Homo sapiens: one gene and its partners. The protein of the gene in region 2 interacts with the protein of the main gene of each other region in a pairwise test. Each region holds a gene or a part of one and is shown on either strand. Other genes may lie near its edges. The genes, in order: STXBP5L, SNAP23, NAPA, ABI3, FXR2 and PHF20L1.

What was found.
Region 1: the proteins of SNAP23 (region 2) and STXBP5L interact in a two-hybrid assay, tested with the Homo sapiens proteins (one study listed by IntAct).
Region 3: the proteins of SNAP23 (region 2) and NAPA interact in binary tests that used the Homo sapiens proteins (3 or more experiments, as listed by UniProt).
Region 4: the proteins of SNAP23 (region 2) and ABI3 interact in a two-hybrid assay, tested with the Homo sapiens proteins (one large-scale study listed by BioGRID and IntAct).
Region 5: the proteins of SNAP23 (region 2) and FXR2 interact in a two-hybrid assay, tested with the Homo sapiens proteins (one large-scale study listed by BioGRID and IntAct).
Region 6: the proteins of SNAP23 (region 2) and PHF20L1 interact in a two-hybrid assay, tested with the Homo sapiens proteins (one study listed by IntAct).

Annotation. Positions count from the first base shown.
Region 1 is NC_000003.12:120,910,196-120,915,372, reverse strand, and holds part of STXBP5L (syntaxin-binding protein 5-like), read right to left. Parts: intron 1-5,177. UniProt on the Homo sapiens protein: Plays a role in vesicle trafficking and exocytosis inhibition.
Region 2 is NC_000015.10:42,515,474-42,520,650, reverse strand, and holds part of SNAP23 (synaptosomal-associated protein 23), read right to left. Parts: intron 1-5,177. UniProt on the Homo sapiens protein: Essential component of the high affinity receptor for the general membrane fusion machinery and an important regulator of transport vesicle docking and fusion.
Region 3 is NC_000019.10:47,490,435-47,495,611, forward strand, and holds part of NAPA (alpha-soluble NSF attachment protein), read right to left. Parts: intron 5,163-5,177; coding exon 5,116-5,162; intron 4,711-5,115; exon of another isoform or gene 4,594-4,710; intron 3,168-4,593; exon of another isoform or gene 3,060-3,167; coding exon 2,982-3,059; intron 2,741-2,981; coding exon 2,685-2,740; intron 2,612-2,684; coding exon 2,527-2,611; intron 1,686-2,526; coding exon 1,581-1,685; intron 423-1,580; coding exon 354-422; intron 1-353. UniProt on the Homo sapiens protein: Required for vesicular transport between the endoplasmic reticulum and the Golgi apparatus. Together with GNA12 promotes CDH5 localization to plasma membrane.
Region 4 is NC_000017.11:49,217,207-49,220,706, reverse strand, and holds part of ABI3 (ABI gene family member 3), read right to left. Parts: intron 2,969-3,500; coding exon 2,792-2,968; intron 1,168-2,791; coding exon 1,082-1,167; intron 850-1,081; coding exon 754-849; intron 539-753; coding exon 381-538; intron 1-380. UniProt on the Homo sapiens protein: May inhibit tumor metastasis. In vitro, reduces cell motility.
Region 5 is NC_000017.11:7,604,137-7,609,313, forward strand, and holds part of FXR2 (RNA-binding protein FXR2), read right to left. Parts: intron 2,014-5,177; coding exon 1,961-2,013; intron 1,603-1,960; coding exon 1,509-1,602; intron 1-1,508. UniProt on the Homo sapiens protein: mRNA-binding protein that acts as a regulator of mRNAs translation and/or stability, and which is required for adult hippocampal neurogenesis. Specifically binds to AU-rich elements (AREs) in the 3'-UTR of target mRNAs.
Region 6 is NC_000008.11:132,844,012-132,849,188, reverse strand, and holds the end of PHF20L1 (PHD finger protein 20-like protein 1), read right to left. Parts: intron 5,037-5,177; coding exon of another isoform or gene 5,034-5,036; coding exon 4,871-5,033; intron 3,409-4,870; coding exon 3,266-3,408; 3' UTR 382-3,265; downstream 1-381.

The DNA of each region.
Region 1 (5,177 bases), on a different chromosome or scaffold from region 2:
AAATCAGTACAATCATCCTATTATTAAAAGTAAATATGAACTTAATCCTGAGATTTTTCACAGGAACATCGTCAAATGAGGCTAGAGAAATATCTACAGAAATGCACTAAATTTTAAGAAACAGAAATTTCGTTTACTTAGTGATAATACTCCTACAGAAAAACATACTTGGAAATTATGTTAAGATTTTAACTTAGCTCTGTATGTATGAGAAATACAAAAAGTATGACGGCACTGTTTGTTTTTAAGAACATTTAAGAACCACCACACTATACAAGACCAACAACCCAATTTGCTGACAAATACTAGCACCAAAGGACTTTTTGTGAGAAAATGTGATTGCCCTCTAGGTAACTTTAAAATTTTACAAACGTACTTCTACACATCTATAATCCTTTACTCAAGCCTGCCCCTACACCCTTATGCTCTCAGGATAAGCAAAGCAGACAGCCTGGAGTACTGAGTCATCTGGCTTTGGTTTCTGGTTCTTAAAAGAAAAAAAAATCTTTAATTCTTTCTGGTTATTACGCTTGTTAGCATCTTAGTCTTAATGGTAGATTAATTCTTCCTTGCCTCCATTACCATTCTTAAAGATGCCTCTACTGTGCTTTTTGGTGACAGGAGAATGTAACAAATCCACACATCTCAGGGAATCTTCTATTATTCTTTTTATGGATGAAAACTTTATAACTGTGGAACTGTGATCATGATCTTTTCCCAATCTCAGTTGCAAAACCGCTTAAGTAAAATGGAGTGAAATTAGGAGAATGTGGAGACAATGAAAATCTTGAGGAAGAGATAGTATTCAAGGATATCTGGGCATTTAATCTCCTTTCATCTTGCTAGGGTCCTGGAAAGCCCAACTCTCTACAGTTCATGCCTGTATTTCTGATCTATACCTATTTACCTGGTACGATCTGATATTATGTCAGATATGAGCATCATTGTTATAAATCCATTTCCCTGCAGAAGTTATACTAGTTAACTACATGTTGTTTCTGACATTGTGACCATTTATAAAAACAGTTTATAAATGATTATGAATAGTGAGTTGGCTAATTTAAGAGTTTATTCAGAAATTTAGGGATTATGTCATCTGGTTCTGGTAATATACTTATTTTACTCTTTTTTTGGTAATATACTTATTTTTATCTTTTGTTAATTAGGTCTAGAACACCCTGTGTGTTTGTCACTGTCAATCTAGAACTTCTGAGTTGTTCCCCCAAAAAGATCATTTAAAAATGAGAATGTTCCTAATATCTTCTTCAATAAAAACTGAAATAAATTTAATTAAATCCTCCTACAATCTTCTTTTCTACATCTGTTTGAAAAGCATATACCATGTTCCTAAAGTGGTATCAACTCTTTCACTAGATGCTCTCCACCTCTTTATATAAAAGTTATTTCATAAAAGCAACTCCAAGAAGCTGTTCAAAATAATATCTAGTTTGCTTTTAACACAACAATCTGTATAGCTTCCCTCCTTTAATTTATTCATTTATTTGCTCAACAAATATTTGACTGCCTTCAATGGGCCAGGCACCATTCTATACATAGATGATACAGATGTGAACAAAATAAAGCCTTGCTTTATACATATCACTGTATATATAATCTAGAAGGACTTGACACTTGGTTTGCTTCAAAAGCATGTAATTTCTTACTCTGCTTTAAATAAACCAAAACTGAAAGTTGTAGATATGAATTTGGAAAGGTTTATGGAAGAGAAGTCCACACAGAACTCCAATCACAGAACCAACATTCAACAGAAAAACGTAGTCATTTATCAAATGATTTGTAAATTGTATATTTAGATGTTTTCAATTAAAATAAAATGTTTAAGGCATATATAAGTAGTAATTGCTCTCTGCTTTAATATCTTTTTCAATTAATCGACCAATCATGTATATGCATCTTTACTCATTTAAAGTGTATCAAGTGCCCACTATAATGGTTTTCACTAATGGCTGTGCATAGAAATCTCCTGTGGGGCCATTCAAAAAAATGCAAGTGCCTAGGACTCATCCCTAGAGATTTTGATTCTCTAAGAATGGGGAGGTGCTGGAAATCTCTATTTTAGACACCAGAGTTAAGAAATACTGGCCAGCTAGATAGTGTATACCCTAGCAATAAGAAGGAAACAAGAAAAAAAAATTATTTGCTTTTCAAAGAGTTCATAGTATAACGGCAGTGACAGATTTTTAAGAAACTTTTTTAATCACAGGAAGATGCTAAATTCACACTATAGGTATATGCCAGATGCTACAGAAAAACATAGAATAGGTTTTTAAAAAAGAAAAAAAAGAACCCTGGTGGGTAGTTGAGGTGGCAGTGGTCAGAGCTAGTCTCATAGAGGTGATGTTTGAATTATGAGGTAAAAGATGGCTGGGAATTATCCAATCGTATGAAAGTAGAAAAGGTATTCTAGTCAGAAACGAAAGAATGAGAGAAGGCATTGAGATATGAGAAAATATGGTATCTTTTAGGGAATGCAGTATACTTAGGGAATCAAGCAAATAAAAATGGAAAGGTAAACAGGAATCTCTTCTGAAGGAAACTCTATACCCATCAAGGTAAGCAATTTGAAATTTATTTTATAGAGCAATAGTTTCAAATTGTATTTCACAGAATTCAAGTTCAGGAAAGGCAGTTCATGTATTTCACAAATACCTGGACAATGCAGGCATTCCAATGTATACACATTCTGAACGATTGCAGTAACCCAATGCATTAACTTTTTTTTTTTTTTGGCTGACCTTGAACCAAAGTTTCTTCTGCCATTTCTATGACTTTGAACATCTCATAGATATTTTGTTTATTATGAAGGGTACAGCTTTATACTTTCACTTTTTTAAGGCTAGCGAACATCCTACTACCTTCCTATGGGCGATATTACACAATAAAAAACAAATATAAAAAGTTTTTTTATCAATTGGCTGTATAATTTATTCTTATAATTTCTGAAACAAATGTGTGCCCATGAGTTGCCACATTTTTTTGTTTGAATAGATGTTATTTACTGTGGTTTCAAATAAGACTTTCATTTTAAGAGCATCATTGCTGTAGGAAACCAATATAGAATTTTTAGCAAGGAAATGACATAATTAACATTGTATTTCAGAAATAGCCATTATTGTAACAAAATGAAGTGTAATCCAGTAAAACTAGAAGTAAAGAGATCAGTTAGAAAGTGATTTCAAAAGACCAAGCAAGAAAATATGACGGAACGAACAAGTACTGGGGATGTAGAAAAGGTCATAAATTTCAGAAATACTAAGGAAATAGAATAGAGGGGATGTGATGACTAATCAGATAGAAGAGAGGAGGCTTTCAAACAGCCAAGTCTAGATTTATACTTTAGTTTTGCCCATGTTGAAAAGGTAGAAGCACCCAGAATATGACAGCTCCTTAGAACTCAGAAGAGAAATTTTTTTGCACATTTAATCAGGGAGTCTATGAGTCTAAATAAAGTCCCCATTTCAGTAACGGTCTAATTTTGGGATTTCCTTAGTCCATTTTTATATGTTTTGTTATAGACCAGGTAATTATAATACATCCATATAACTATTTTTTAAAATTAACTATATTCCTATCCAAAGATGTTACAGTATTTTCCACATTTAGTAAGACTTCAGTACTGTTAGTGGACAACTTATATAGCTATCTATCTTATAATTTATTTGGAAATCATAAGCTAATATTATTATAACCCACTAGTTATATTCGCTCTACTATGAACACGTGATTTTACAAACTTTAACAATAATATTCGTATATATTTTATCATCCTTTCCATTTATGCATTACCTTCACCTTATTCTGTCTGATCCTCCCAATAACCGTCTCTTAGTTAAGGAGAGCAGATACACTTATTCCTACACTGCAGATGCAGAAATCAAGGCTCAAGGGAGATAAATGGCTTACCCAAGAGTATATGGCTGTCAACTAGCAGAACTTTAAATAAAACACAAATTTTCTGATTCCTAGGCCAGTGCTCTTCCTACCATGCCATATGTTTTTAAAGTAGTATGTATTTAACTTCTGGTACTTCCTATGACTATCTCTTGCCTGAATAAATGGGAAGATAACTATGTATTCCATTATCTCTTGCATTCACCCATTTCCCTGAAGTTTTTTATTTAAAACCTTCTCTACAAGCTTTATGACCTCAACAGCCCAATGCCATTCTGTTTCAGAAGTCTATCTTTCCTATACCAGTTTTACCTCTGGTAAAATTCTCCTGTATCACTGTCATATACATGAATTGAGAGAATTTGGAAAAAATTTTCAGAATCTGATCGTGAAAATTGCAAACACATCAAAGATTAGAGAATCAGGGCATAATTCCCCTGCCTAGCAGTTCAAATTTGAACTCCAGGACTCTTTTACATTTGTCTCATAACCACTGTTAAGACCTTCCCTCATCGAACAGAATATCTGTTATTTCCTATTGAGGAAAAAAATTATTACTGTACACAAATTTCACAAAGTAGCTTAGAATTAAATCTGTTTATCTAAATTAACTCTAAATAAACTTGCTTTTATGTAAACTAATAACTATAGATTTAATGTTTTTATAATGACCCTGCTAGGAATATAGGCTGAGACAGTGATTGAAATATACCTCATTATACATATATCACTTGTTTACCACAAATATAATTTTAATAATTTCAAAAAACTTTTCTTTTGTGAAAGTATTTTTAAAAATTGTTAATTTCTGTAATTTTGCAATTTTTCTATTTCTTATGTAGCCAAACACATTTACAAAACTATATTCATTTATATGACATAAATAACTTAGTAGCCTTTGTTGCATATAATAGGCACATTCCAAGACAACTCAAAAAAGGGCAATAAAATTATAAATCACTTTATGTCATAAAATATAACAAATATAGCAATAACAATATCTCTATGCATTAACCTAATGCTTGTTTTATAAACTCTCATCTTCTCTACCTACCAGAAACTCTCTTTTGCATATTCATTAGAAGTTCAATATCAAAGTATAATTACATAAAATGTTTTCTTACTAAACCAGAACACCCGCTATTTTTGAGTTCCTACAACTGCAAGTTCTTATAAGCCTGTGCATTTGTCTGTTTGTGTATTTATGAAGAGTTTAAGAATGTGAAGGTGTTTTTATTCGGAATTTTAAAGCAATGTCATTGGCC
Region 2 (5,177 bases):
TGGTGGCGGGCGCCTGTAGTCCCAGCTACCCGAGAGGCTGAGGCAGGAGAATGGCGTGAACCCGGGAGGCGGAGCTTGCAGTGAGCCGAGATCGTGCCACTGCACTCCAGCCTGGGCAACAGAGCGAGACACCATCTCAAAAAAATAAAAATAAAAAAAAAGAATGTTTAAACTGGGACATCAAGCAGTTTACTATTCTGAGACTTCCCATTTTAAATCTGTCTGCTTTCAAATTCTTGTTAATTAGAATTACAATTTATCAATTACTGCCTAAGATATGTGATTTTAAAAAAGGATTTGTGGGCTGTGCGCGGTGGCTCACGCCTGTAATCCCAGCACTTTGGGAGGCCGAGGTGGATGGATCACGTGGTCAGGAGTTCGAGACCAGCCTGACCAACATGGTGAAACCTCATCTCTACTAAAAATACAAAAATTAGCCAGGCGTGGTGGTGCACGCCTGTAATCCCAGCTACTCGGGAGGCTGAGGCAGCAGAATCACTTGAACCTGGGAGGCAGGGGTTGCAGTGAGCTGAGATCACACCACTGTACTCCAGCCTGGTGATACAGCAAGACTCTGTCTCAAAAAAAAAAAAAAAAAAAAAAAAGCAAGGGGGTTCTGCCTGGTTTTGAATCCCAGCTCTTCCACTACATAGTGTAGCCTGGATGTAAAATGATAATAATAAAAAACATCTATCTCATATTAAGGCTACTGTTTAAGGATTAAATTAACATGTTCAGAATAGTACCTTAAATTAATGCACAGGCCCACAACTGTTACCCCAATCCATTGGGGGCAAGATGTTTTGGACAGTACCACATAATTAAATACATTAATATTTCTGTAGTGACGTTGCGTGTGGTGGCTCATTTCTGTAATACCAGCACTTTGGGAGGCCAATGTGGGAGGATTGCTTGAGCTTAGGAGTTTGAGACCAGCCTGAGCAACATAGTGAGAACTCATCTCTACAAAAACTTTTTAAAGTCCAGGTACGGTGGCTCATGCCTGTAACCCCAGCACGTTGGGAGGCCGAGGTGGGTGGATCACTTGAGGTCAGGAGTTCAAGACCATCCTGGCCAACATGGCAAAACCCCGTCTCTACTAAAAATACATTAGTTAGCAAGGTGTTGGTGCATGCCTCTAATCCCAGCTACTTGGGTGGTTGAGGCATGAGAATCGATTGAACCCAGGAAGCGAAGGTTGCAGTGAGCCGAGATTGTACCACTGCACTCCAGTCTGGGTGACAACGTAAAACTCTGTCTCAAAAAAAAAAAAGAAAAAGAAAAGAAAAGAAACAGGGTCAGGCATGGTGGCTCATGCTTGTAATCCCAGCACTTTGGGAGGCCGAGGCAGGCGGATCACCTGAGGTCAGGAGTTCAAGACCAGCCTGGCCAACATGGTGAACCCCCATCTCTACTAAAAATACAAAAATTAGCTGGGCGTGGTGGCAGGCACCAGTAATCCCAGCTATTTGGGAGGCTGAGGCAGGAGAATCGGTTGAACCTAGGAGGCAGAGGTTGCAGTGAACTGAGACTGCATCACTGCACTCTAGCCTGGGCAACAGAGTGAGACTCCGTCTCAAAAAAAAAAAAAAAAAGAAGAAGAAACAAAAGTTTTTAAAAACAAACCAGGCATGGTGACATGCACCTGTAGTCCCAGCTACTCATGAGGCTGAGGTGGGGGGATCACTTGAACCTAGGAGGTCGAGGCTGCAGTGAGCCAAGATCATACCACTGTACTCCAACCTGGGTGACAGAGTGAGACCCTGACTCAAAAAGAGTATTTCTGTAGTGAAACCAATTAATATCTACAGCAAGTAATAAAGACTAAACATAGCTTCAGTTCAGGTTACATTTTATACCCTAATGAGTTGTGGCACCATTACAGCAAAAATAAAACAAAACTTTAGGAGTTTTTTAGATTTCTGAATGGCCAGCAGGGCTTAATGGCTCATGCCTGCAATCCCAGCACTTCTGGAGGCCAAGGTGGGTAGACTGCCTGAGCCCAAGGGTTCAAGACCAGCCTGGCCAACATGGTGAAACCTTGTCTCTACAAAAGATACAAAATTAGCTGGGTGTGGTGGCATGTGCCTGTAATCCCAGCTACTCAGGAGGCTGACGCTGGAGGATAGGTTGAGGCTGCAGTGAGCCATGACTGCCACTGCACTCCAGCCTGGGTAACAGAGCGAGACCCTGTCTCGAGAAAAAAAAAAAAAAAAAAGAGAAAGAAAAGAAAAAGTATTTCCAAATGGCAAATAAGGAACTCTGGACCTGACCTGGGTTGTTACTGCTACTGCTGGTATGAAGACTAGGCCTTACACATAGGACTAAGATCTCATGTCTACCTTTAAGAAGCTCATGTTATGGTTATTCATGTGACGAGCCTAACTGAAACACAGACTAGCAGATTAGAAAGATCAAGACACAGGCAAGAATGATAGGAACAGAGCTGAGGATAAGAGATATCATACTGGCCAAGGTCTCAATGGTGTAAGAAAGAAATAGGTGGAAGAAAGACAATTACAATCAGACATCTTTAACTGAGATAATACTTTCTTCTCTTAAGGGAACTGTTTTGTTACAGCAGCCCCTTGATTCCATCTCTCAAGAAGTGCCAGAAAAAAAAAAAGAAAGAAGTGCCAGTTGGGTGCAGTGGCTTAAGCCTGTAATCCCAGTGCTTTGGGAGGCTGAAGTGGGAGGATTTCTTGAGGCCAGGAGTTTGATACAAGCCTGGGCAACATAGCAAGACCCCTGTCTCTACAAAAAATTTCAAAAATTAGCTGGGCATGGTGGCACACACCTGTAATCCTAGCTACTTGGGAGGCTGATGTGGGTGGATTGCTTGAGCCCAGATGTTTGAGGCTACAGTGAGCTATGGTGGCACCACTGCATTCAAGCCCGGGAGACAGAGGGAGAGGCCATCTCTAAAAAAGTAATGCCTTCTCTTGATCCACTGAGAAAGGGTTCTACTGAGGTTAGAGGCTGAAGAATGCTGATTCAGGACCATACCCTACCTTGTTTCCCACCAGTCTTCAAGAAAAGCTTGCCTATGCTTGGCTGGGATACACAAAGAGACATAAAATTAATACTCTGTAGCTGCATTTCCCACTTTCTATGATATTAGACCATCTTAGGTCTAATTCAGTGCTCTTCCTATTTATCAACACGTGACTTAGAGCTGATCTTCCTCTAAGATTTTAGGGGAGACTTCTTTCTCCTTGTTCTCCTAACATCTGATCTCAAGAAAATTCATCTACTTCCTCTCTTCTGTACTCTTCCAAGAAGGTACATGGAACACAAGAGAAAGGTACAATTATGTTTGTAAAACATAGCTAAGAGTTTGTATCAAATAATCTGTACATTTTAACTTGTTTGCTTAAAGTAATCTGCTAAACTCTGATTGACAAGTCATAGTTATTAAAATATGAACTTTTGGCCGGGAGCAGTGGCTCACGCATGTAATCCCCGCACTTTGGGAGGCAGAGGCGGGCAGATCACCTGAGGTTAGGAGTTTGAGACCAGCCTGGCCAACACGGCGAAACCCTGTCTCTACTAAAAATATAAAAATTAGCTGAGTATGGTGGCACATATTTGTAATCCCAGCTACTTGGGAGGCTGAGGCAGGAGAATCACTTGAACCCGTGAGGTGGAAGTTGCAGTGAGCCGAGATCACACCACTGCACTCCAGCCTGGGTGACAGAGCGAGACTCCGTCTCAAAAAATACAGAACTTTCAGTTGGTCAACCAAGGTGTAAACAGGTCAACAGACTTGTGTTAGAATAGGAAGCCAATGGATAAGACTAGGAAGAACACTGTCAAACCTTTCCTCATGGCCAAAACAAACACTAAAGTTGACTGACAAGCAATTAATCTCTACTTTCTATAACAGAAATGGCATAAAAATGTTGTTTCATAAAAACACTTACTGAAAATATAAAAATATAACCGCTGTTGGTTTACAAGACCAGCTGAGAACTGGATGAAATATTAATGTCTAAGAACCTCTTTAAAAATGAATACATTGAGGCCGGGTGTGGTGGCTCACACCTGTAATCCCAGCACTTGAGGAGGTTAAGGCGGGCGGATCATGAGGTCAAGAGATCAAGACCATCCTGGCCAACATAGTGAAACCCCGTCTCTACTAAAAATACAAAAATTAGCTGGGTGTGGTGGCATGCGCCTGTAGTCCCAGCTACTCGGGAGGCTGAGGCAGGAGAAATCACTTGAACCCAGGAGACGGAGGTTGCAGTGAGCTGAGACTGCGCCACTGCATTCCAGCCTGGTAACAGAGTGAGACTCCGTCTCAAAAAAAAAAGGATACTTTGGCTGTGTGCAGTGGCTCATGCCTGTAATCCTAGCACTTTGGGAGGCCAAGGTGGGAGGATCTCTTGTGCCCAGGAAAGAGAGGCTGCAGTGAGCTGTGATCACGCCACTGCATTCCAGCCTCAGTAACAGAGACCCTGTCTCAGAAAAAAAACAAAACAAAACTTTCAGCAGTGAGTACAGTCATTCAATCTCCAGATACTGTCGTTTCTTTTTATACTCCACTCCAATCTGTCAACTCCTTAGTTTGGCATTCAAGTTCCTCTACTACCTACTTATATCTTACTTTCCACTTCTCATCTACATGAGTCACACAGCTCAGTTAAGTCAAGCTCCTTGTTAATCTTTATTTTGAACCTTTCATAGGAAATGCCCTCACTGTTCCTCCCTGTTCATCCAAATCCTTCTTATCACTCAAAGCCCAATCCACATCCTACCTCTTCTATAAGATGCTCTCCAACCCAACCTTTATCAGTTCTGTATACCTAGCCTTGGTCACTATCATATAATCTAACATTAGATTTAGCCTTGCTCACTATCATATAATCTAACATTAGATTTATGTATTTTTTATGTTTTGCCATTCTTTCCCAACTCTTCTACTCTTTTGGCCATCCCTCATGTGCCTACCACAAAATATATATTTTGTTAATACTCCTCCTTTGAAAGGAAAAGAAAATAACTCCATCCTGCTTTCCATCATCCAGATATACATTTCCCTATACTTCCTAACCTTTTCATGTATTACTACAAATTGAAATTGGACTTGATCCCAGGATTGGTCAAATGTAAGTCACAGTTTTCAGTGAACACGCAGTATTTACACAAAAAGCTTAATCTGCCTGAAGGAGAGACAA
Region 3 (5,177 bases), on a different chromosome or scaffold from region 2:
GGTGTGATGTGTGTGGTGTGGTGTGTGTAGTGTATGTTTGGTGTGTGTGGTGTGGTGTGATGTGTGTGGTGTGGTGTGTGTAGTGTATGTTTGGTGTGTGTGGTGTGGTGTGGTGTGTGTAGTGTGTGTGTGTGTGTCCACCTAGCCATCCTGAGCTCCAGCACTCCCCGAGTTGTACTTTCTTCATCTGGAAAATGGAGACTCAAATGGCCAAACAAAACAAAACAAAACAAAACAAAACAAAGACACCCTCTGAGAACTACTGGACAAGTCTTGGCGATTGTCCCACCTGGAGCCCCAGCCACCCCCGTCTGAGGTTCGGGAAGGGGGAGGCCGGAGCACCCAGCACTTACTTTCATCAACTTGCATTCCCGGGAATCAGAGAAAGCTGGGAACAGCTCCTCATACTTTTGGACAGCCAGCTGGGCAGCAGGGAAGGGAGAAGATGAGTTAGTAACAAGAGGGTCCTCAGAGCTACTGGCCTAGCAGCTGAGGGGACTTGGGGATGTCGGGTGATATTGAGTCAGCTCTTGCACCCCTCCCCCAGCCTCAGGTGTCACCTGGCTCTGTGTCTGTCAGTACCTTCCCGTAGCTGAGCTCAGCACCAGCCTGGCTGCAGAGATGGCTGCAGGGAGAGGTGGGTGGAGGGGGAAGGTTCCCCAGATAGGCACCCACTGCCTCCTCCCACCTGGCTCAGCTGGGGCAGGGGACAAATGAGCACATCCTCCATGCCAGGCCTGGGGCTGGTGCTTCTTGAGGACCCTGAGAGGGTCAAATGACGGTGAGCCCCCTTTTCAAAGTGAGGAAACAGATCCAGAGAGGGGCAGTGACCTGCCCAGGGCACGGTGAGACATGGGGTGGGAATGGGAACCTGGTCTGACAAAGCCCAAGCTTTTGCCCACCACCGGTGCCCACAGCAGGGCAGGGCTCTGTGGGGTGTGTGTGTGTGGGGTGTGTGGGGCCACCACCCCAGGCCGTGAGCCAGGGACACCAGGAAATCCTGGACTCCGTGCTTCTGCCAGGCAATGGTAAAAAAACTCCGGCCAAGCAAAATCTAGCGCCAACCCTCCAGCTCCTTCCCGCTGGCCACGCCCCCTCCCACTGCCCTCTTTGGCCCCTCTTTTGCCAAGTGTCCTGAAAATAGGTGGGCATGTGTGAGCTACAGCTAAAGCCACGACAGCAGGAGTCACAAAGATCTGGAACACTGGGGCTGCAGGTCCCTAGTCATGTGGCCTCAAACAAGGGACTCTCGTCCCAGCCTCACCATCTTCACCCATAAGACGCGGTGACAATGGTGCTGACTTTAATGGGGTGCAGTGAGGATTCAAAAAGTGCACCCATGAAGGAAAGAGCACTAAGTGAGGCAGGAGCTGGACCCGCAAAAGCCTCCAGGGCTGGGTGGGCAGGTGATGCCAGCACAGAAACACAGCTGTGAGAACCACACTTCTCATCCAAAGGCTGGCTGGCAGGGGCCAGACGTGAGGGAGGAGCACGTCCCTCTTCGGGGGCAACGGGACCTGGCCTGGAGATAAGCACATGGTGGCCTGGTGCGGTGGTCCTGCGGGCGTGGGGTGTGCTACCTTGGCGTTGAGCATGTCGATGCAGAAGTGGCAGAGGGCCGCCTTGAAGAAGTAGTCTTTGGCGCTGTACTTGAGGAGGGGGCTGTCCATGGCATTGGTCCCCACCTGTAGCCATGGAGAAGTGGCACTGGTGAGCTCAGGGCAAGCAGCCAGAGGGCCAGAGCCACTGCCAGGCACTGGGGGGCCAGCTGGGAGCTGGTTCATGTCCCGAGGTGAGGCCCTGTTAACCCAGGACCCCAAGGGCAGGGAGCCAGGGACCAGCTTGGAGAGGTCAGCGGCCAGTGCGTGAGCGACCAAGATCAGGGTGTGATGGTGGCTGGGTGGGGGTGGAGGCTGTAGCCAGGTGTTCGTGGGCCTTCTGAGAGCCTGAGACAGTGGGAAGGAGGCAGCCTGGCTGTCAGGACCAACGGGAGGCTGGCATGGCGGTGGGCAGAGCGGCGGCAGGCGGTGGGAACATGAGAGGCGGCGCCCGCCCCTCTCTCCCAGGGGGCCAGCTGCCTGCCTTTTTCTCGGCCATCACCCAGGGCTCCGTGCACGCTGGGGGGACCCCATGTGACACTCCCTCCCTCCCACTGTGGATGAGGACCATCGGGCCATGGGGTGGGGTGCCCACGGCCACCCTGGGCCTCTTGGCACTTCTTCCCATTCCCTCCCTCTGGGTTCTTTAGCCAGCCTCACTCTGGGCCCCTCCAGGAAGCTCTGCGAGGGGTGTGGGAGGGGCACAGCCAGGGAGAGAGACGGTGCTGGCACGGCATGGAGTCGTAGGTGGAGAACATTCAGCCAGGCTGAAGACAGGGTGGGGGGATGACATGGCAAGGGATGTCGGGGGAGAGGCAGAGGGTGAGCCGGGGGAGGGGTGGTTCCAGAACAAGGTGCCGGGGCTTAGGAGGAGGCACAGGCCCTGAGAGGGGGCAGGGTGGAAGCCGCCATCCCCACCTGTCCCCACCTGTTCGTAGATGTCAATGGCCTTCTGATACTGCTCCAGCAGCGCAGCGTAACCAGCCACCTTCAGCAGACACTTGTTGGCTGAGCTGTGTGGGGAGGAGTAGTGAGGGGAAGTGGTGGCGGTCCCTGCGGGGCTGGGGCAGGCAGGAAGGGGGCTACCTGTTGGACTCCTCGCCTTTGTAGTAGTCTGCAGACTGCTCGTAGTGGGCAATGGCCTGGGGAGACACGGGGGATGGGTTCCAGGGGAGGGCAGGGAAGGGAGAGGAGGCCTCCGTGAAGCTTCCACACCCTCCGCCCTGCCTGCCTGGGACACAGCCAGACCCCATTCTCCAAGCTCTGCCGGCGCCCCATGCCCCCTTCTCGGCACTCAGACACCAGAGGACTCCCCTGGTGGGAAGAAGAGAGAGCAGCACTGGTCCTGGCTGCCAGCCCATGCAGGGCCCTGCTGCCACTCACCTTCTCGATGTCCACCAACTCTGTCTCATAGATCTCAGCAATGGAGATGTGGTGCTTGGCCGCAATCGTGAATCGGCCCTGGAGGGGACACAGGAAGGGGCTGCCTGCGACTCATGACCTCCTGCGTGCCTGCCTGCTGACCTATGACCCTTCAAGTTCCCACCCCTCAGCCACGCCTGTGAGGAGGTATGAAGAAGACCTGAGGTGTGAAGAAGATCGAGAGGTGGGGGAACACAGGAGTGAGAAGGGAGGGCCCCAGCACTAGAGGCCTGGCTATGCGTGCTGGGCTGAGCGGGTGATGTTGGACAAGCCACTCCAGGGCCTTAGCCTAATTCCATCCCATCCACGAGGGCACAGATGGTGTGACACCAGAGAGAATGTGAGCACGAGCACTTGGCCAAGGCCCTGGCCCTTAGGAAGCCTCTGATAACAGCCAGAGAGGCGGAAGGACCAGTCCAGAGCCACTTGGCAAAGGGCTCTGGAGAAACCAGGATGGGAGGGAGGGCTTGAGACCTCTGCCCAAGAGTACCAGCTCTGCCCCCAGGCCAACACCTATCTGTCAGCCTCCCCCAGGCACACCCAGAGCTCCCCAGGGAGGCCTCAGGTTCCAAGGGGCCTCGCACCTTCCATCCGCCTCCACCCAGTGTCCAGGCGCTTGCCTAACTGCTCTGCACCAGGGGCTGGTCCAACGCCACCCCCTTGCTGAGGGCAGTAGGAAAGGGCAAGGCCCTGGGCTCAGCCAGACCTTGTTTCGGGTCTCAGTGACTCCTGCTTGTAGCCACATGTCCCTGGGCAAATCATGTCACTTGTCTGAGCCCCTCTCCTCCACTAAGGAACGGGGATGACAATAATGCCAACCTCACAGGGCTGTGGATTAAACCACCCTGCAGTGTCTGGCCTAATAAATGGCAGCTGCTATTATTGTTCTAATCACAGTCATCCCTGCAGCACTGCCCTGAACGCAAGGGGTAGGGCTCGTGTCCCTGCCTGGGGTTGGAGGGCTGAGACAGACAGGGCAAGCGGAGAGGCAAAAAGGAGCTGGCCAGGCACGGTGGCTCATGCCTGCAATCCCAGCACTTTGGGAGGCCAAGGCAGGTGGATCACTTGAGGTCAGGAGTCTGAGACCAGCCTGGCCAACATGGTGAAACCACATCTCTACTGAAAATACAAAAATTAGCCAGGCATGGTAGCACACGCCTGTAATCCCAGCTACTCGAGAGGCTAGGGCACGAGAATCGCTTGAACCTGGGAGGCAGAGGTTGCAGTGAGTGGAGATCACGCCACTGAACTCCAGCCTAGATGAGAGAGAAACTCTGTCTCAAAAAAAAAAAAAAAAAAAAAAAGAGAGAGAGAGAAAGCACTGACAGGAGCCCCGGCCTGGGTGGGACCCTTCACTCTGGCTCCAGTTGGCAGCTGCCCATCTGGTCTGCATCTGTCGTTGGCAACGCGCCCTGGGGGCAGGGCAGGTGCTGAGCCTCCTGTGGGCTCTGCCTATCCCTGTGGCCTGCTGCAAGATGCTTATCAAATGTGACACTTGCGGGAAGGCTGGGCAAGGGGAAGTGCCGGACACACACTCTCCAGTAACCTAATTTCTTTTTTTGTTTTGAGACAGGGTCTTGTTTTGTCGCCTACGCTGGAGTGCAGTGGTGTGATCACAGCTCACTGCAGCCTCAACTTCCTGGACTCAAGCGATTTTCCTGCCTCAACCTCCCAAGAACTAGGACCCCAGGTGCATGCCACTACACCAGGCTAATTTGTTGTAGAGAGGAGGTCTTGCTATGTTGCCCAGGCTGGTCTCGAACTCCTGTGCCCAAAAGATCCTCCCACCTCAGCCTCCCAACATGCCAGGATTACAGGCATGAGCCACCCTGCCCAGCTCAATAACCTAAGTTCTATGAATGAAAACCATGACTGCCTGTGGAGTGAGGGGGCCGTCAGGCTGGTGGGGAGCTGGGTGAAGACCCAGCCAGCCCAGGCCAGCTCAGGTGACCTAATCCCCCCAGCTCCCACTTCCCCCTCCCCAAGTGGTTTGGCCGCAGAATAAGAACAGTGCTGGGGGTGCTGAAAGAGGGGACGCAAGGCTGGGGCAATGCAGTGGGACCCGGGGGTGTCAGGACAAGCAAGCAGCCCTTACCATGTCTGTGTAGATCTCGATTGCTCGCATCAAACAGTTAATGGCCTCTGGAGAGAAAGGGA
Region 4 (3,500 bases), on a different chromosome or scaffold from region 2:
ACGCCCGGTCAATTTTGTATTTTTAGTAGAGACCGGATTTCTCCATTTTGGTCAGGCTGGTCTCGAACTCCCGACCTCAGGTGATCCGCGCGCCTCGGCCACCCAAACTGCTGGGATTACAGGGGTGAGCCACCGCGCCCGGCCAGGATTAAGTTCAAATGAGAAAATGGATGAGAATCTTCGAACACAGGGTCTGGTATACAGCAGGCGCTAAGTTATGTTAGTTCACTTCCTCTGTCTCCTTTCGCCCCTGTGCTGCGCTCCTTGGAGGAGGCATTCACTGAGGCTGGCCGGGGCAGATCCAAGAGAGGTGGGCTGGGGAGTGGCAGGAGGCAGAAAAGCGACCCCACGGTTGGGAAGAAGAGGGTGGACCTCCTTACCCGGTGGGGGTGGGGACAACTCCTCCAGCGTGGGAGGCCGCTGGAACACCTCGACGGCTGCTGGTGGAGGAGGTGGGTCCAAGGAGCTGGGGAGAGGTGGGGCTGGAGGTGCTGCCTGCCCCTTGGGCGTGGGGGCCCCACCGACACCTTCGGCGCTGCTGAACACCAGAGAGCCCGGTTGGCGGACACGCCTTCCCTAATGCAGCATCCCCAACTGGCCCCACCCCTCCAATCCTGACCCCAGCCCTGCACGTGTGACCCAGGAGTAACTGGGTCCTTTCAAGCCCAGGAGTCACTATGACCACTGGCAGGTGGCCCCTCTCAAAAGCCACTTCCCACCCCCCACCCACCCACGTGGGCTTGTAGGTCTCACCCGGCCGAGGCCAGGGAAAACGCAGAGGAGGCGGCGGAGAGTCTGCCGTCGGGCACCACCGGCAGGTGCACTGGCTCGGGAATCCGGGGTGGTCTCCTGGCGGGGGGCAGGGAGTGGGTATTAGGAGGAAGGAGGAAGGCTTCTGGCCAGCAGGGGTCGGGTGCGAGCAGGAAGGGCAGGTGGCCGAGGGGGAGGTTTGGCGCCAGGCATCCAGCATGACGGCCTGAGCACCCGGGGGCGCCAGGGGTGGGTGGCGAGGCTGGGGGAGGAGAGTTTCAGGGTCGCGCGGGGCAGGGCTAGGCTAGTTGGCGTCGCGGCGAGGCCTCACCCCAAGGTGGCGGAGGCGGGTGTGGCAGGGGCCTTGATGCTCTTTCGAGACAGGGTGCCTGTTCTTGACAGCTGCGTGCTGAGGTCCTGCGAGGGAGCGGGAGGTAGGGCTTACATTTGGGGTGAGGGGCCTCCCTCCACCCTCATCCCCAAGAGGAAATGGAGGAGGGGCGGACGGGAACCGGGAGGGAGAGCCCGGCATAGCCAGTTCCCACTTCCACTTCTCAGGCCCCTCTCCTACACTTCCCCCACCCCACCCCCTTGTCATTGCCTGGGTTCTGGGACTCAGTTCTACCAAAGCCCACAGCCACTTCCTCTGCACAGCCACAGCGGGTTGAGTGGGCCCAGCACCCCTGTCCCTCCCCCAGACCATCTCAGAGCCCAGGAAGCTGGGGCCCTGGCTTGGTGGTCCCTAACTTTGATCGGGCTGAGGAGGGGGCGGAGAAAGGAGAGGACACATCACACTTAGAAGTGTCCCACCTTTCATTTTCGAAGATTTGTGGAACTGGCTTTGGGGAGTTAGGGCAGAGAGGAGCAAGACCCAGGCCACTTAGAGGGGATGCGCAAATGACAGGGTGCACGCCTACATGAAAGAGGGAACTGCTGTTACCAATGGGACTTCCCCAAGGGGTGGGTACAGTGTTACCCCATGGGCTTCACCAGGGGCAAGACAAAAGAGATTTGAGCTGAAGCACAAAGAATATAAGTTGGGCCGCGAGTGGTGGCTCACACCTGTAATCCCAGAACTTTGGGTGGCTCAGGCAAGAGGATCACCTGAGTTCAGGAGTTCAAGACCAGCCTGGCCACCATGGAGAAACCCTATCTCTACTAAAAATACAAAAAAAAAAAAAAAAAATTAGCCGGGCATGGTGGCGGGCGCCTGTAATCCCAGCTACTTGGGAGGCTGAGGCAGGAGAATCACTTGAACCTGGGAGGCGGAAGTTGCAGTGAGCCAAGATCGTGCCATTGCACTCCAACCTGGACAACAAGAGCGAAACTCCATCTCAAAAAAAAAAAATATAAGTTGGACAACAGAGAACTACTGGTGGGAAGGAGGCCTGGTGGTTGAAGGGGAGAATGTCGTTTCCCCTTTAAGGGGGGCTGATAAGTTAAGGATATCAAGGGGCTCATTTTGATACAGAAATGTTAAGGTGTGGAGACAGGAATTGAAGGTGGGACGGGTGTGAGTGCGTGCCCTTTCTGACCTCGCAGAAGGACATAGGCTGAGAAGACGCCAGCGCCATGCTCCCCTCCCTTCACCAAGTCCCCTTTGTGTGGCTGTATCCCCGCTTCTTCTCACCAACAGCAGCTCTGGGGTGACTGCTCAGTGCAGTGACCTCAAACCCCCAGACAGAGGAAGTTGCTGTTCTCATGTGGCTGGGAGCCATTCTCATGCACACCCTGACATCCTCCCTTCCCCCTCTTCCCCTTCCCACACGCCCGGTGCCCACAGGGGCAGGGCGGGGGGGCGAGGGGTGCTCAGGATCTCACACTCAGCAGATCCTCCGAGGATGGTACAGACCAGTTTTGGAGGGAGGGATTACAAAATCTAGGGAGAGGGAGAAGAGCTCAGAGTGGTGGTTTCAGGGAGCGGGGAAAGAAAGGAGTGGCAAGTGGGGACAAAACTTGCAGAACTGGGGTTCTGGAGGGAAAGGGGCCACAAGGCACGAGAGGGTGGGTTGGAGGGAAAGAGGAGGGCCCCTCTCTCTACCTTGATCCCATGGCCAATGTCGTCCAGGCAGCCAAAGTTGAGGGGTCTCCTGCAGTAGGGCGTGAGAGGGGGTAGGTTCTCTGGGGCGATGACCTTCTGGCCGGGGGGCAGCCGCTGGACAGTGGCTAAGGTGCCGATCTCCCTTCGGGCCACCTTCTCCATATGCATGTTCACCATCTGCATGACAGGGTTCAAGGTGACAGAGAGGGGTGGTCTGTGTCCAGCACCCTTCCCCCTAAGGAGGAAGAAGATAAAGACTGGGCTGGGGGGGGGAGGCAGCCAGGTCTAGAAAAAGAGGGCCCTGCCCCCCGCCCCCCGCCCCCCACCAGGCTACATAGCAATTGGGAAAAGTAGCAGGAAAGGATGGAGCCACTTTGGAGCAACTTCCTGGTGGAAAGAGAGTATGGGTTATTATTAGCTGTGCAGGAACAGGAGGAAAAGAGAAAACACAACATCCCTAGGGATGCTGGGAGGAGACAAGCACCCGGCTGACTTCGGAGCAGAGGGGGAGAATATGGAGGTGGCAGAGAATGGTGGCTGGATCAGCTCTCCCCTTTGGGGGACAAATAAGTAAATTGACTTCCTCTCAGAATGTTCCATGGAGAAAGCCTACAGTTCGAAAGGGTGGGAACTCTGGTCTGCGGCGGGGGAGGAAAAGACACACCCCACCCACTGAACATGTGGGTGATGTACAGGCCAGGCCAAATGT
Region 5 (5,177 bases), on a different chromosome or scaffold from region 2:
AGGGATGAGGAGGCCGGGCATGGTGGGGCTCACACCTGTAATCTCAGCGCTTTGGGAGGCTGAGGCAAAAGGACTGCTTATGCCCAGGAGTTCAAGACCAGCTTGGGCAACATAAACAATAGAACAACCATTAAGATATTTGGGGCTGCTGGGCACAGTGGCTCAAGCTTATAATCCCAGCACTTTGGAAGGCCAAGGTGGGAGGATCTCTTGAGCTCAGGAGTTCAAGAACGATCTGGGCAACACAGTGAGACCCCACTTCCACGAAAAAAAAAGAGGCCAAGCGCGGTGGCTTATGCCCATAATCCCAGGACTTTGGCTGAGGTGGGCTGATCACCTGAAGTCAGGAGTTCAAGACCAGCCTGGCCAACATGGTAAAACCCCACCTCTACTAAAAATACAAAAATTAGCCGGGTGTGGTGCCACATGCCTGTACTCCAAGCTACACAGGAGGCTGAGGCAGGAGAATCACTTGAACCAGGAGGTGGAGGTTGCAGTGAGCTGAGACCGCGCCACTGCACTCCAGCTTGGGCAACAGAGTGAGACTTCATCTCAAAAAGAAAAAAAAGGTATTTGGGATGCATCTTTTTTTTTTTTTTTTTGAGACAGAGTTTCGCTCTTGGTGCTCAGGCTGGAGTGCAATGGCACAATCTCAGCTCACTGCAACCTCCACTTCCTGGGTTCAAGCGATTCTCCTGCCTCAGCCTCCCAAGTAGCTGGGATTATAGGCGCCCGCCACCACGCCCAGCTAATTTTTTGTATTTTTAGTAGAGATGGGGTTTCATCATGTTGGCCAGGCTGGTCTTGAACTCCTGACCTCAGGTGATCTGCCCCACTCGACCTCTCAAAGTGCTGGGATTTCAGGTGTGAGCCACTGCATCCAGCCTGGGATGTATCTTAAACCAAGGATACAAGAAACCAGAGGAAGGAACTAATTAAAATCAGAGGACGGCAGGGCATGGTGGCTCATGCCTGTAATCCCAGCACTTTGGGAAGCTGAGGCGGGTGGATCACCTGAAGTCAGAAATTCAAGACTAGCCTGGCCAACATGGTGAAACCATGTCTTTACAAAAATGCAAAAATTACCCGAGCATGATGGCAGGTGCTTGTAATCCCAGCTACTTGGGAGGCTGAGGTGGAAGAATTGCTTGAACCCAAGAGGCGGAGGTTGCAGTTAGCTGAGATCGCGCCACTGCACTCCAGCCTGGGCAACAGAGCAAGACTCCATCTCAAAACAACAACAACAACAACAACAAAAAAATCAGAGGGCACTGGATTTTAGATGTTGTTACCATAAATGGAAGGCAAATCGCCTGAAACTGGGGATGTTCCTGAGAGTTTGGCTGATCACAACAGTGATAAAAGGGGAACTGTTGCATTTTACATTTCCATAGGCTACATGGCTGGATATGGCTTAGTTGGGGAGGAAGGAACATGAACCAACCAGAGAAAAGCCTAGAATCCTGGGGAAAAGTGACATTTAGAAAGGTGTACTCCACAGCCCTTACCTCCACTTCATCCCCTTCTGTGATCTCCTTATTATAGTCAGCTGGAGGTGGTAGCCGGACATCCCCAAAAGGAATTTGTCTCTCACTCTGCCAGCTATAATAGAAACAATAATATGAAAAAGCTACTCTGACTGATATGGTTGCCCATTTCTTTACAAAAGGGTTATTGCCTCAGCTGGGCGAGTTCCACCTATCTGGATAATTAGAGGCTAAACCCCAGGCCCTGCTCCATAGTAGTGTCTTCCATCTCTTTCTAGACTCTAAATACTGGGTCAAATGCCCCCACCCTCACCAAATTCTCAGCCCTTTCCTCTCCTGGGATCCATATGAGTTCCCACCCAAACCCTCAGCTCTCCCAACCTATTACATGCCTCATAGGACTCAGCTGCCCCCTCTTCTCCACTCTCCTTCTAGGACCTAGTATGCTGGATTCTCTATTCCCAAGGTCTTACTTGTTTTCAAAGAAGATGGTGACAGAGTCTTCATGGACATCCTTCACAAAGCCCTAGAATGGATTTTAGAAAAAAGCAAAAAAAATAAAATGACCTTTTACTTCCACCTTAGCCATCAAGGGAATAAGACACCACAAAACCTTAAACTTGAGTTTTAGATAGGGACACAAGTGGTGTAATGAGACAGCCTGAAAGGCTGCACTGGGGAAAGAATATGGGCAGTCAAACAGAGAAAGGAAATGATATTGTCATGGAGAGGTGTATGTACCACCTGCATCAGAACAGCCTGGAAACCAATGATCTACTCAGGCTCCCACAGGGGCCTCCCTATCTGTCTGCCTCCTGTTGTGCTAAGCAGCCTGCCAGAGTTCAATTAAAATACCAACAACATTCAGCAAGGCTAAGAATATCCCATGAGACAGTGTGAGGCTGTCCTGGAACACCTAGAGGACATGAGGATCTGTCGAGAGAGAAGGGCCTACCTCCGCAATACAGCAAGAGATCTGAGCAGACTCGCTGCCCTGATGCATGGGTCCTAAGACAATAATCGGAACACTAGACAAGTTCAAAATTGTGATGAACACAATTTACAGAAGGAAAAATTAAGACTTAATTTAAAAACATCGGTTTTTTAATACTAGAATTGAATCTAGAATGACACTGATAATTTATAAAGGATAATAAAATTTATGGAAGACTCCAATCTTGATATTTTGACAAGAGCAAGAGGGATGACTGAACAGCTGATCCACCTCCTGTGGTCTGTGTCCTCACTAAGGAGGCCAAAGCCATGCATTCACCCCTATGCTCCCAATTTTTCTACCTTCTCCCTATTTTTCACATACAATTAGGGATTTCTAATTTTGAAAAAGGTCTAGCTTATGAATTTATTATTTTATCAACTGTGCTTTTGGTTTCATATCTAAGAAATCTTTGCCCAGGCCAGGCACAGTGGCTCACGCCTATAATCCCAGCACTTTGGGAGGACGAGGCAGGCAGATCACCTGAGGTCAGGAGTTCGAGACCAGCCTGCCAACATGGTGAAACCCCGTCTCTACTAAAAATACAAAAATTAGCCAGGTGTGGTGGTGCATGTCTGTAATCCCAGCTATTTGGGAGGCTGAGGAAAGAGAATCACTTGAACCTGAGAGTCAGAGGTTGCAGTGAGCCAAGATCATGCCATTGCACTCCAGCCTGGGCAACAAGAGCAAAACTCCATCTCAAAAAAAAAAAAAAGAAAAAGAAAAAGAAATCTTTGCCTAATCCAAGGCCACAAAGGTTTTCTCTTATGTCTTCTTCTTAAACTTTTAGTTTTTTGTTTTACATTTACATCTATAATCCTTTATTTTTAGACAGAGTCTCACTCTGTCACCCAGGCTGGAGTGTAATGGCGCAATCTTGGCCCACTGCAACCTCCACCCCCCGGGTTCAAGCAATTCTCCTGCCTCAGCCTCACGAGTAGCTGAGATTACAGGCAACCGCCACCACACCAGGCTAATTTTTTATATTTTTAGTAGAGACGGGGTTTCACCATCTTGGCCAGGTTGGTCTCGAACTCCTGACCTCAGGTGATCCATCTGCCTCAGCCTCCCAAAGCTGGAATTAAAGATGTGAGCCACTGTGCCCAGCCTATGATCCATTTTGAATTAAATTTTATATATAAGGTGAGGTATTGATCAATGTTTTTTAAATTTTTAAATTCTTATTTATTTTTTTGAGACAGAGTTTCGCTCTTGTTGCCCACGCTGGAGTGCAATGGTGCAACCTTGGCTCACCGCAACCTCCGCCTCCCAGGTTCAAGCAATTCTGCCTCAGCCTCCCAAGTAGCTGGGATTACAGGCATGGGCCACGACCCTGGCTAATTCTGTATTTTTAAGAGAGACAGGGTTTCTCCATGTTCGTCAGACTGGTCTCAAACTCCCGACCTCTGGTGATCCACCCGCCTCAGCCTCCCAAAGTGCTGGGATTACAGGTATGAACCATCGCACCAGGCCACTTTTTTTTATTTTTAATATATTTTTAAATTAAAATTTTTTTTTAATAGAGACAGGGTTTCGCTATGTTGCCCAGGCTGGTCTTGAACTCCTGGACTCAAGCAATGCACCCGCCTTAGCCTCCAAGAATGTTGGAATTACAGGTGTGACCACTGTGCCCAGCCCATTTTTTACCTAAAGATATCTTGTTCCAGCACTGTCTGTTGAAGACTATCCTTTCTGGCCAGGGGCGGTAGCACACGCCTGTAATCCCAACACTGGGAGGCCGAGGCTGGCAGATCAGCTGAGGCCATGAGTTCGAGACTAGTCTGGCCAATATGGCAAAATCCCATTGCTACTAAAAAAAAAAAAAAATAATAATAATAATAATATATAAATTAGCCAGGCGTGGTGGCACATGGCTGTAACCTCAGTTATTCAGGGTGGCTGAGGCATGAAAATCACTTGAAGCCAGGAGTTAGAGACTGCAGTCAGTCAAGATCATGCCATCGCACTGCAGCCTGGACAACAGGGCAAACTCTGCCTCAAAAAAAAAAAAAGAAGAAAAGAAGAAAAGAAAAGACAAGACTATCCTTTCTTAGCTGAATTGAACTGCCTTTTCATTTCTATCGAAAATCAGGAAGGGCAATTTAATGTATAATGACAGAAGATTGGTAGTTGATGGAGGACTTTTGGGAGTGACAGAAATGTTCATTCCTTTGATTGCAGTGATGGACTCAGTTACATACATGTCAAAACTTAACAAATGGCACACTTTAAATATGTCTACTTTGTTGTATGTCAATTTCAGCTCAATAAAGATGTTTTTTAAAAAAATTAGAGAGCCCATACAACACAGGGAAACCTCATCTCTGCAAAAAATTTATAAATTAGCAGGGTATGATGGCTTGTGCCTGTAGTCCCAGCTATTTAGGAGGCTAAGGTGGGAGGATCACTTGAGCCAGGGAGGTCGAGGCTGTGATGAGCTGTGATTGCACCACTGCACTCCATAGCTTGGGCAACACAGCAAGACCGTGACTCAAAAAACAAAATAAATAAACAAAAATAAAAGAATTAGAGGTTTCAAAAGGCTAATACACAAGAACTATTCATGAGCTTTGCTGCTAGGGACAAAGGCTAAGCTTAGGAGAGAAAACACCAAAAATGCCCTTGGCAAATGCACAGCTCCCACCTCATAGAACTAATCAATCACAAACACTTACCAGATTGCTATTTCCTTACGA
Region 6 (5,177 bases), on a different chromosome or scaffold from region 2:
CTGAACCTGCCCCCTTATGTCTTATCCAGGATAAGTTTCTAAATGTCTCTATCCCTCAGCCTCATCTAGAAAATGATCATTTTACCTTATTTTATGAACAAATTAGATACTGCAGGTAACATGTACAATGCATGGAACATGTGCAATGGATGGAACAGTGTGGCAGTGACAATTGTGATGAATTAGAATAAAGGCAAAGTTACAGTTTCAGAGGCCAGTGGTAGTATCTTCATGACATTATTTTATAAAAAATGTTGGACCTTCAGTAGGATTCAGAAGTAAGAAGACAATATTATCTGTTTTAATGATATGGATATGAGGGAGGACTCGGTGTTTGAAGCCTGAACTCTTAGGGTAACGTTATTAACAGAGACAGTGAAGTTGGCAGGAGACTTCGTTTATTGGAGGGGAAATAGTACGCTTCATTTTGAACATGTGAAATATGAACATCTGAGAGGAAATAAGACAGTGGAAATAAGATGAGTGTTAGGAAAAGGGGTTTTACCTGAAATTTAAAGAATAACCAAGTTGTTTTCGAAGTACATTACTCTTAAGTTTGGAAATAAGTCAGTAGAACCACAAACAAGTATGAGGAAGTACAAGTTTATCAGTAACATACCAAGAGGGAGCCTTCTCTACCAATGCTCATTCTGTTCTGCCTGGTGGCAAATAAAACATTGTCTTTTCAAGAAACACTCTCTCTAGTTTATTGCTTCTATTTAAATACATATAGTGATATTTAAAAAGACTAAAAGAAAATAATCTCATCTGAAACTTTTCACAATAGACTGACTTCTCAGAAACTAATTCACTCTCTTCAATAAGAAAAGCTCAGCGCACTACTTGTGAAAGGCTTCAATCGATTGGTATACTCTATATTAAATGAAAATATGCATAAAAATAATTTGATTTAAAGATCTAAATTTAAAAATTCAGATTTCCAGTTCGTATACATATAAGCAGAGCAAAAATTTCATTAATCTAATAATGGAATTTTCAATTTGCTGGCTAACAAATAAATTGATCTAATTTTTAGAAACTACAAGAACAAATGTGCATGAATTTAACCGTGTTCACCAGGAATCAAGAGGATGAATGTTACTAGGTACAAAGGGTCTTCTGTGTGTGTGACAAGAATCTAGGCAACACCATTATTCATAGGTTAAGGATGCTATTTGCTCCGTATCTGAAAAAAAGAAGATATAAATTCAATGTCTAGAATGTAGCCATGACAGGGAAAATATTAGAGCCACTATTTTAAAATGCAAAGGAAAAATAATAGTATCAATCATAAAATATAGACATTAGCAAATTTACTCCACACATGGAATACAGGCACTACTTTTTTACTTTGATATGTAAATTTAAGCAATTACCCCACAATACCACCTCTGCTAAAGCTTTTCATTTATCAGTAAGATCTTTCACAAAGTTAAAGTATGACAAGTAAATACACAGGATGATATTTTCTGTCTGTTGATCTTTGGCACATTTGTCAAGTTGGAGAATCTCAAAAGGCAATAAAAATTTCTGACTGTTTTGCACATTCTTTTAATCTTTACATCAAAATATAAGGCCGCAAAAAGGCAAGCTGAAATTTTAGGATATGTGGAATAGTTTTAATACAGAGTTTTACATACAGTACCCTTACATATAGAACAATGTGTTTGCAAATTTAAATAATATCTGAATGTACAGTGGCATGTATTCTTATCAAAGATAAATTCAAGTTTACTGTCTATCAGTTCTAAAATGCATTTATACAGATTGCGAGAACTGATAAACAGAATGAGGCATAAAATATTCAAGTGTTATGTCATCAAATAGCCTCCTCTTAACAGTCTTTCTCCCCTTTTAAAAAAATTTCAAAACCTATACATACATTTTTAATTTTTAAAAACAGTCTGTTAAAAGGTAACATTTCATGTTAACCACCAATTCGTATAGTCTATAGTAATAAAACTAGATATGTGATATAAATATGTGTAGATTATGTACATATGTACGTTGAGTGTTTGTTTAAAACAAGCATACACACTTACGCATACCTGCGTATGTAGCACTGGGGGCACATACAACTCACATGAGTACTGGCAGACAGTAGGACCTAGGCTCAAAATCCAGCAAGAGCTAACACAGCAACTTAGTTGCCTTTGGTTTCAGAAATTTGTCCACTTGTGATCAAAGCTAAAAGTTTTGAGTGTGCATGTATTTTTTAAAAATAAAATTCATCTTCAGAAATGAAGCTTTTCCAGTATTCCACTACTAGCAGTTAAAAAAATCCACAGCCACAAATTATTTTGATATTCTGTCACTCCTCATCCCAGCTGAGGTTATTTACAATGTATTTTTTTTTTTCTGAAGGCAAACACCAAGCATACTCAGGATCAAACTGTACGTTGAGCCTGAATACTGCCATTCAACTATATATATGATATATATAGTATAGGTGATATATAGGTTTTGGATGGACTGGTGGCATTATGTAAGACTTAGGGTGGGAGAACTCCCACAATATTTAAAATCCTCTTTCCAGCAGAATCATGATCACTTGGCACATCGGACCCTTCTGCAAGCCAGTTTGTTTTTAATGAGCTTAATGCCTGCAATATATTCCAATTATTTGGTGTTTGTTTTTTAAATACATTCATAATGAAGTAAGAATTCCACAACTGTTTTCCCCAGAAGTGAGATTTCTACTGTCAGTTTTCTGATTGAGAACATTCATCGCCCAAGAAACAGCTCATGATCCTTTAAAAGTTTAAATACCCTAAATTTCCGTACAGCTGGATCAACTGCTGAGAAGACAGTTCTTAGAGCAACCCTGTAGAATTCTCCAGAATTTAAATTTCCTTTACAATTTTGTTTTTGGCCAAGTGCTGGTTTATAAACATAGATCTTTCTATTAAAAACTATACAAATATACCATATTTCTTTCTACAGGTATCTTGAGCTTCACGTAAGCAACTACTCAAAAATTCTGAGAACTTGAAATCCCTTAGTATACATTATATTCTACTTCATTGTTCCTTGGCATATAACACATTCTCATTTGCAGCTTGCTCATGAATTTGTTTTTAAATACTAGCTTCCTTGATAAAGTTGTTCTTCATTTTTCTTTCCAAGGTGCCATCCTATTGACATCACAAATCAGTGAATGACCAGACATTACTAAGCTTTTAAATTATCCACTTAGCCATCACGTGGATAATAAAAATGCTTTGACTGAAGAAAGCCACATTCTTTCATTAAGTGTTCACTGTTGTCATACAGAGCAAAGAGTTGCTATCTGCTGTACTTTGCCCATGTCAATTAGGAGCTGTTTTATGTGGCGTTTAAGTTGGGGCAATCTTGCAAGAGGATCTGGTGGCTCCAACTCCCCTGTGAAATCAAGCCAGCTTTCCAGAACTAAAAGAGAGAAGAAGATAAACAAATTTAAACTGCAACTGGAAGAACAGTCAGAAAATGAAACAATCAGAAAGTTGGAGCTGTGATGGAGTTAAGGGTTCACTTCCCCATCTTTAGAAGGCCAACATACTCAAGACATTTCCGAGAGGTTAGCGTCCTGTCATCCCACCCCACAGAGTTCTAGTCCCTCTTGGCAATTTTTATCTGTCATTTAAGATAATTTTCCCCTTTATATATATAGGAATTATGTATTTTTATATATAAGGGGGAAAATACATATACACACACACATAAACATATACACACACTAACTTCATTTTGAAGGTCTCCTTTTACTCACTTCTGGAATAAGATAACAACAGTTCCCTATGTTTGCTCAAGCTTTCTATTAATTTAGACTCGTCATCTCTACATAAAACATACCTAATCATATTTTTTAATCCAGAAGCTCTTCTTAACAAAGAAAAGGAAGTAGCAATTTCTCAGTGTTCTTTTCAGTTCCACTATTTTAACACTACTTTTTAAAAGACATGCAAGCGTATTAAAATTGTAGGCAGAATGCAATTGATTATATTCTATAGTTTTTATTAATGTTTCCTTTGGAAATCTACCCTAATAATATGAAATAGTATCAAGATGCATTTTCTTTTCTTCAAACATGGACTCAAAACATCACATTAACTCTACAGTTAGCTTATACCCAGATGGAAGAGGCTTCTAAAATGGGTTTCCATTTTCTCTCTTCTTCTCTCAAGGGGGAAAAAAAGGAGTAGGAGCTCTAACTTAGTGTAGAGGAGAGGTATCACGTGCTTATGCCAAATTAAAAAAAGTAAAGTTGGGGTGCAGAATATCGTCTATGATGTTAGGAAGAAACAGGAGTCAGAAAGCATTAAGAACAACATGGACTGAGAATCAGGTAGTCTAAGTTACTCTAGTTTCTCAACTATAAAGTAGTGATAGTATCTTTCTTGCCCACTTTTCAGGCCTCCTGTGTGATGACACAATTTTAAAATATAAAAGAAAACCACTTAAGGTTTACCTACTTAACTTTGTAGAAGTTTTTGTTAATTTAACAAGTGCTAACCAAAGTAAAAAATATTCAAAATGTTTTCACATTTCAAACATGCTTAAATTCCTTATGTTGACTTCCAAAGAAAGCTTAGTTCAATGAAACTAATCAATTTATTCCATAAGTGATCTATCTGGAGCCTGGCAAATAGACAGTATTTAATAAATATCCACCTTAAAAAAGTAAAAACAACCTAAGGTCATACCCGGTCACATTGTTTTAAGCGTAAAAGATCCCAAATGTGTTAAATACAATACAAAGGGAGTAATAAAGCCCCATCGGTATGGAGAGTATCTGCAGTTTTCATCCCATAATTTAAGAATTTTAAGTAACTTCTTCATAGTAACAATAAATTCACTATAGTAACTGTATTTTAGTTCTTTCTTAAATTACCATCGACTTCTTTTTCTATTAGGTCCATCCTGCTGGTAACTTCGTTCTGCACATTTTCTATGTGTGTAAGGAGATTGAGCTGCCACTGAAGATGTGAGTCTCCTGGGTCTTCGGTGCCCTTTTTATCATTATAAACAAATACTGTATTCCCTTCAGCTGGATTCTTCTCCAAAGGACCATTGGAAAATAAACACAAAGAACGGGATGAAATGCAGTCATTGAGTTAAGGATACAGGAAACACCTCATCACTGGTAACAGTTAGTGAGATCCAATCTGACTCCAGGGGTATCTTTAAAGAAGTACTGC